2 linked regions of the Homo sapiens genome follow. The protein of the gene in region 1 purifies or fractionates together with the protein of each later gene. This does not show direct contact. Each region holds a gene or a part of one and is shown on either strand. Other genes may lie near its edges.

Region 1 (3,947 bases):
GCAGATACTCCCTAGTACTGACTGAAGAGATGTGAAGTTAGGTATGAGGCAAGAAGACAGAAGATGAGGCTGAGGACAGTTTCTGAGGCACTGAATTATATACTCTGGAACCTTATCAGTTACCTGTTGTGTCCCCAGTGGGCCAGGGTGGAGTGGGGAGCCTGTTCAGGCTCACTCTGAAATTGGGCTTTAGTTATTCTGAGAGATGGGTTTCCCTTCAGGGCCCAGCATTTAAATTGTCCATACTCAGAAAATAAATACAATTAATCCTCGTGAATATCGACTTGCAGACAAATTCCTTACCTAGGAAAACAGACCAGTTCTACTTTTCATTGCATTATTTCAAAAATTAGATTTGTTCATTCTTGGATTCATCTTTGATTCTTCCTGCTCCCTCTTCCTCTCATGGTCCAAGAAGTGATGCCAAATTTATGTCCTGGAAATTCCTCAAGGCCATGTCCTCCTCTCCATTTCTCCTGCCTCTGTTTCATTTCAGCTTTCCTCATCTCTCATCCATGCTGCGTCCTTAACGCCTCACTGCAGGCAATGGTACCCTCCTACAATATACTCCATGTTGCAGCCAGAGGGACCTTCGTAAATACAAATATGATTATGTTTCTCCCCAGCTTAAAATCCTTTTGTGTTTCCCCATAGTCCACAAGGGAACGAAGAAACACCACCAACAGCGTCCACATGGCCTTCACGACATGGCCCTGTGGACACATCAGACGTTGTCTTGCAGTGCCTCATCCACACTATCTGTACCACTGCAGGCCTGGATACGTCATGGTTTTCATGGTGCTATCTTGTGCCTCTTTGCACCTGCACGCACTGTGTTTCCTACATGGGATATCTGTGTTTACAACCAAACTCCCAGGGGCCAAATTATATCCTTTGTAAAGGACTTCAAACCACCAGGCATTTGCTGGAAGTTTCACGGAGGAAAACAAGCATTTTTCATCTTTTAATCTGTTTTGCTGGTCAAAGAGGAAAAGGAGTGGATGGACAAAGTGGGGCCCAAAGTCTGGATCTAGTTCTGACCAACAAGGAGAAATTGATGCACAATGGGGAAGTGACCTTGGCATTTTCAACTGGCAGAGCCGGTAAGTTTGGGCACAGTTCAAATGTGAGTCTGTAGCCACTAGAGAGAGGGGTTTCAAAGTCATGGAGAAAAGATGGGGGTGAATCCTGCACCAAGACTTATTGAGGAGAGTTCTTGGGAACAGTTACTTTTAGGATTCCACAGGGAAATCACTGAGCGAGTTTTACAAAATACTGCTGCTGGGTTCCCTCCTCCAAGAGATCTTTACTTAATTGGTTTGGGGTGCAGAGTGGGAATGTGCATCTTTAAAAGCAGAATTCCCAAACTGGAGAGCTCTGTGAGAGCTTCCTGCAGGAGACATTATTTGAACTGAATTTTGAAAGACAAGCTTGCATGCCAGGAACCCCATGTATATGAACAGAGGATATGAAGGAATGTAAATAATTTGCTATGGCTCTAAAGAAAAGAAGGGAGAAATCAAGACGTGAAGAGGCTTACACTCCTTGCTCAATAGTTTCTAATTTATCTTTTTGGATAAGAGGATGTTATAAAGGATTTTAAACTGAGGTATAAAATAATTAGAATTGGAATGTTTACCTGAACTTCAGAGTAGGCAATAGGTTGGCATGGATCAGAACTGTAGGTAGGAAAATTAATTGTTTAGGAGAGACATGAGACATGATAGAGGTGACAGAGTATGGACAGGAGGAACACAAAAGTGATAGAAGTAACAGGACTGTTGATCATTTAGTTAAAAGAACTGCGGAGGGACACACCCAGGTTTCTGAGAGATGTCCAGTAGTACACAGGTAACATCTACGGCTCGAGACAGGTTAGAGATTTTGAAGAAATAAGTTAAAAGTTGAAACATGAACCTATGGATATAGTGGAGGTCATACAAGAAGATCATATTATAATGAAAAGAAGAGGGCTTAGAATGGTAGGAAAGGAATCAGGATACCAAGCAAAGGAGTCAGGAAAGAAGGGAAGGGTGCTCTGGAAATCCTGGGAAGGTCAAAGAAGAAAGGGCTAAATGTCGCCAACAAACAAAATGAAATAAGACCTGGGATGTATTTTTTGGCCAAGGCAATTAGAAAATGATTAGTATCCTTATCAGGAGCAATTTCAGAGAATGTTTGGGTGGACGTCTAACTACAGTGGAGTCAAACGTGAATCAACGGTGAAAAAAGGACAATAGCCAATGTGTACACTTTTTATAAAAACCACCCTCCAAGGACCAGGCACTGGCCCTCTCTCCGGTGCCCACAGACATCCACACAGGCCCAAAGAATCAGGGATTGCACAAGCCAGAGCAATCGAACGGTTCTGAGTCATCTGCCGGAAGCCTTGCCCTCAATCAAGGCGGACGTGAAGCATCTACAAAGGAGGAATAGTCAAAGCAGCAGCGGCGGCGGCGGCGGCGGCAGCAGCAGCAGCAGCAGGAGGTGGGGGCCTCTGCCAGGTACCGGGCGGGGCAGGCACGGAGGTGCCCAGGTTCCCGCGGAGGCCACCTCTTCCCTGGAGTGCGTGAGAGAGGGGAAGGGAGGAAGGCCAGAGCAGGAATCAGAGCGAGGCAAAGGCGGGCAGGAACTAGGAGAATGACGGCGGGAGGCGGCCGGGAAAGAGAGTCGCGGGGCTGTGGGGGTCGCCCTGGCACCAGCCGGGGTCCCAAGCCCCACCGCGAGACCCGGCGAAGGCCGAGGGCCGGGTCCCGAGAACAGGTGCGCCCAGACCCGCCCTGAATAGGAAGCTGCCCCTGGAGAGGGAGCGTCTGTTTCTAGGCTTGCGATTTGCTGCGCTGTGATTTGCTGCCGGATGGGAGCGGGGGGTGACGCGAGCAGTGAGTTTGGAAGCGCCGGAAGCTTGGGCGGGAGCCCCGGGAGGGCGAGTGGGAGGAGCCGCCGCTGCGGAGGAGGCTCCGGGAGTGCGGGTGGCGGGGCCTGGAATTTCCGTGGCGCCTGGGGCAGATCGGGGAGGCGCCGAGTCCCTGCTCCCCTGGCGCCCAAGCTTGCCCCTGTGCTTACAGCCTATTGGTTGCACCTTCTCCTTCCCTTCCTGTCCCCCCCCTCCGTTCTTTCCACCCCTGCCTTCATCTTTCTGTATCTTTCATATTCTCTTCTTCATTGTCTGCTTCCTCTCAAATGGGATGGGGTTGGGGGTGCTTCTTCACCTACGCCCCTCTCTGTTGCAGCCACCGGCGTTACTTTAACCAATTCCTCACTTTCCAGACACTCTCAGTCCTCTGGCTGCTGCTTCACTCCTGAGACCTCTCCATTCCAAAGGGCCTCACCCAGGGCTGCTCTCCGGGCCCCTCCCGCTTCCCTGCCTCGGGCTCTGCGTAGACCGCGCCCTCTTCCCTGGGTCCACTCGCAGGGGCAGACTCGTCTCCCCAGTTCTCCCAGCACACCCTGATGGCTGGGTCTCAGTCTCCGTTTCGCGCGCGCGCTCTCCCCTCGCCCTCCTCTGTCTCTTCCTTTTACTACCTCCAGATATTGGAAATTCCACAGAAATAGGTGGATTTCTTCCCTTGTGCCTCCACTAGATGTTCTGTGTAGTTTCATCCATTCTCATGGAACCTCTCGGAATCGGGATGCTGATGGCTCCAGGTCTCTGGCTCTAGACAGTCTACTCATCCCCGTCCCTAACTGTTTACAAACATCCTTGGCTGTCTTTGTTACAGGTTCACCTGGTATGGTGTGTTCCACGCATCTCAAATGGAACAAGTCATATTCCCCATTCCAGCCTGACTCCTCATTTAAAATTCCAGTGGTTCACGACCCACCCTGAGTATGAATTTATAACAGCTAGGCGCCTCGGGACTGGGCCCTCCTGTGCTCTGTCCCTATGTGAGCAGTCACTGCCTGGCAATTCCAGCCCCCACTTCTCTATTGCAGACAATCCCTCT
Region 2 (3,600 bases), on another chromosome or scaffold:
GTAATCCAGCACTTTGGGATGCCATGGCAGATGGATCACTTGAGGCCAGGAGTTCGAGACCAGCCTGGCCAAAATGGCAAAACCTCATCTTTACTAAAAACACAAAAATTAGCCAGGTGTTGTGGTACATGCCTGTAATCCCAGCTACTTAGGAGTCTGAGGCACGAGAATCACTTGAACCCAGCAGGTGGAGGTTGCAGTGAGCCGAGATCGTGCCACTGCACTCCAGCCTGGGCCATAGAGTGAGACTCTGTCTCAAATAATAATAATAATAATAATGGCCGGGTGTGGTGGCTCACGCCTGTAATCCCAGCACTTTGGGAGGCCAAGGGGGGCAGATCACCTGAGGTCAGGAGTTCAAGACCAGCCCGGCCAACACAGTGAAACCCCGTCTCTACCAAAAATAGAAAAATTAGTCGAGCTTGGTGGTGGGCACCTGTAATCCCAGCTACTCAGGAGGCTGAGGCAGGAGAATTGCTTGAACCCGGGAGGCAGAGGTTGCAGTGAGCTGAGTTTATGCCCTTGCACTCCAGCCTGGGCAACGAGAGCGAAACTCCATCTCAAAAAAATAAATAAATAAAACAAAATAGTTTTTTAGTGGATTCCTTAAGTGTTTTCTGTATAAAAGATCAAGTCATCTGTTAATATAGTTTTAGTTCTTCCTTTCCACTACTAGGTATTTTTCTTATTTATTTGGTCTTCTTCTTTCTCCTCCCACCAGAATGTAAGCTGGTTACTGCTGTGGTTCGAGTGCCTAGAACAGGGCCTGGCACACACTGGTGCTCAGTTGTTTGATGATGAATGAATGAATAAGTGGAGCCAGCATGACTAGGCTCAAGTGATGCCCCCAGCCTAGGGCCCCCACTCCTGTGGCACCTGCCTATAGGGATTAGATCTGTCCCTTCCTCCCGTCTTCAGCCCTGACCTTTCTGCTTGTCCCCAGTCTTGGTTGCAGAGGGTTGTTGGAGCTCACCCTCCTAACAAGCTAGGTGCATTCTGGTGACATCACAGAGCCTTCACCGGGCCAGGCACTTTGCAGGATTCATTTCACTCAGTGCTCCCACAACAGCAGCCACGACAGGGGCGGTGTGCCCCAGTGAGTGTGCAGGGTGTGGCCCAGGTCTGCCTGCCCTCTTGACCCTTGTCACCGCCTTGGCAGGAGCACAGGGTAAGCCTTGGTCACATCCTCAAAGCCTTGTGGAGCCTGGAGGGGGCTCCTCATAGAAAGTGAGGCTTAGGGGCTTTCATTGGCTAAGGAAACGGGACTCCCTCATTCATGCTGTTTCCTCTCTTTGGAACTGTCTCCTCCACCTGGCTACTCCCCAGGCTCATTCTATCCTGAGCTTGAATGTCACCTTCCCTGATTCATCTGTTCCCCCGCCCTCTCCTGGTGACAATGAGTCATCACTGGGTAAATACAGTCTGCAGTGGCTCATCCCAGCACCTGCTTGGCACTCAGAGACCTGGGCGGTGCCTTGGGGCAGAGCAGGGTACTACAGGCCCCACAACACCACAGGTTCTCCTCGCCAGGCTTTCCCGGGCTCCTGAGCCAAAGTGGCGACTGAGAGCCCTGACTCTGAAGTCATACAGTCCTGGGTTTAAATCCTGCTTTGCCAATCACTGGGGATATGAGCTCGAGTGGCGGGTAGGGTGGCCTTCTTTTGGAGCTTCAGTGCCCTCAGCAGTAGAAGGGGTGGCATAGAGCCCACCTTGCAAGACTGCCATGCAAAGCAAACCTGGCGATGCTCAGGGGAGGCTTGGCTGCGGCCCTCTCCGACCCTCTGCCCTGAGGCCTCGATCTGGCAGTTAACCCACTCTCCTCGGGTCACTTCCTTAGCTGTCCCCTTGGCGGTTGTGCTTAGGTGGGATGAGCTGGAGATAACGTCTCTCACACTGTCTCCTCCCTTCCCTGGCCACCCCTTCCTGAGCACGGGCTCTGCCAGGCAGGCTGTATGGAGATGGGGAGCTGCTCGGGGATGCAGAGCTCGGTTCTGCCACGTGCCGCTGCCACCCCCAGATCCTGCCAAGGCCCCCGCAGCAGTTGGGAGGGGCTTGGATGAGCTGCTGCCACTGGCTCCCACTCACTCCCAGGGCACAAAGCATCTCTCCAGTAGAGGGGTGCTGAATTTTTCAGCATGGTCATGCTCTCCAACTCAGGAGGAACCGGGGGGCTAGAAGACCAGAGCCCTCTGCTTAGTGTTGGTGAAGCTGAAGCCCCCAGGTCGCTGTCTCCGCACCCAGAGTCCAACTGCTTGGGTTAATCCCCATTCTGCTCTTACCTGTGGTGGGCCTCAGGTGAGGGTCTTAGCCTCCGGGCCCCCAGTTTCTTTGACTGGGGATTGAGCTGATGATGTGGCTGCTCCATACAGAGGTTGGAAAGGTTTGGCATGACCACCTTTCTCTGGCACTTGGAGCAGGCTCCAGGGCCTGCTGGCTCTTGTGAAGTTCTTTGAACAGTGCCTGGCACATGGGAATCACTGTGTGGGTATCAGCTGTTGTTACTATTGTCATTGTTGTTATTAGTGATGAAGAAGGCAGCTCTGGAGTCAGGAGGAACCAGGCTTCAGGCCCAGCTCAGCTATCTACTGGCTGGGAGGTGTGGGGCAGCTTGCCTAGCCTCGGTCTCTTCATCTTTGAAATGGGCTGAGTAGTCCAGCCTAAGACTATTGTGAGGGTCATGAGGCGGTTGGCAGAGCCTGGCTTTGGAGGAGGTAATGGCAGTGCAGGGAACTGCCCAAGGTCTCAGAGCAAGGTGGCGGGAGCAGCACTGGGTACAGAGGGAGGCTCTGCAGGTTGCCAGGCTTCCTGGGGAGGGACAGCTGCCCTAGCTCACCTCACCCCTGCCTTGTGTTTGTCTCATTTTTATTACGTTTTCACTGTTGTTTTTACAACAACTACACGAGTACATTCTTGTGGTGAAAACACAGCTATTTTGTGACACAGAGTGAAAGTGGAGCTTCCCACCGCCTCAGTCCCAATGGGGAGTGCCATGTCCCTGGTACCACATGGAGTCCCCTGGCGCGGATGTGTGTGCCTGTGCTCACCTGTCGCCTCTGGCCCACAGGGAGGAGGTACAGGAGAACTGTGTGCGGTGGCGAAAGAGGTTCACCTTCGTGTGTAAGATGAGTGCTAACCCGGCCACCGGCCTGCTGGACCCCTGTGTCTTCCGTGTGTCTGTGCGCAAGGTGAGGCCAAGGGCGCATGTGGGGCTGCTGGGCTGGGCTATAGGCCCCTCCCCTCATGAGTCCGCACCCCCAGCTGAAAATGGGGTGAGTTGCTCTGCCCGTTGCCCTCCTCCCCTCAGATCTGGGGGGATTGTGGGAGATGCATGAGGTCCCTGGGATTCTGCAGTCAACTTGCTGCTTGTGTCTCCCTCCCTGTGCAGGAGCTGAAAGGCGGGAAGGCTTATTCCAAGGTAAGAGGGGCTGTGTGAAGGGGCAGTGGGATGGAATGGGGGGTGGCATGGGACAGGCACAAGGGAAGCCTCCAGCCCCTTTTCTGCCACAAGCAAGAGGCACTCAGCCCTACCTGAGATGTGTTATTTTTTAGAAATATCTTTATTGATGGTCTTTGCACTCAATATAAAGGCAGCATATGGTT

Evidence for each region.
Region 2: the proteins of SERPINB8 (region 1) and EEIG1 purify together in Homo sapiens (affinity purification with mass spectrometry; 2 studies listed by BioGRID and IntAct, with this or other methods). This does not show direct contact.

Annotation. Positions count from the first base shown.
Region 1 is NC_000018.10:63,967,684-63,971,630, forward strand, and holds the start of SERPINB8 (serpin B8), read left to right. Parts: upstream 1-2,397; 5' UTR 2,398-2,487; exon of another isoform or gene 2,488-2,821; intron 2,822-3,947. Other genes in the region: serpin-like protein HMSD, read left to right, coding at 655-968. UniProt on the Homo sapiens protein: Has an important role in epithelial desmosome-mediated cell-cell adhesion.
Region 2 is NC_000009.12:127,953,390-127,956,989, reverse strand, and holds part of EEIG1 (early estrogen-induced gene 1 protein), read left to right. Parts: intron 1-3,064; coding exon 3,065-3,185; intron 3,186-3,385; coding exon 3,386-3,415; intron 3,416-3,600. UniProt on the Homo sapiens protein: Key component of TNFSF11/RANKL- and TNF-induced osteoclastogenesis pathways, thereby mediates bone resorption in pathological bone loss conditions.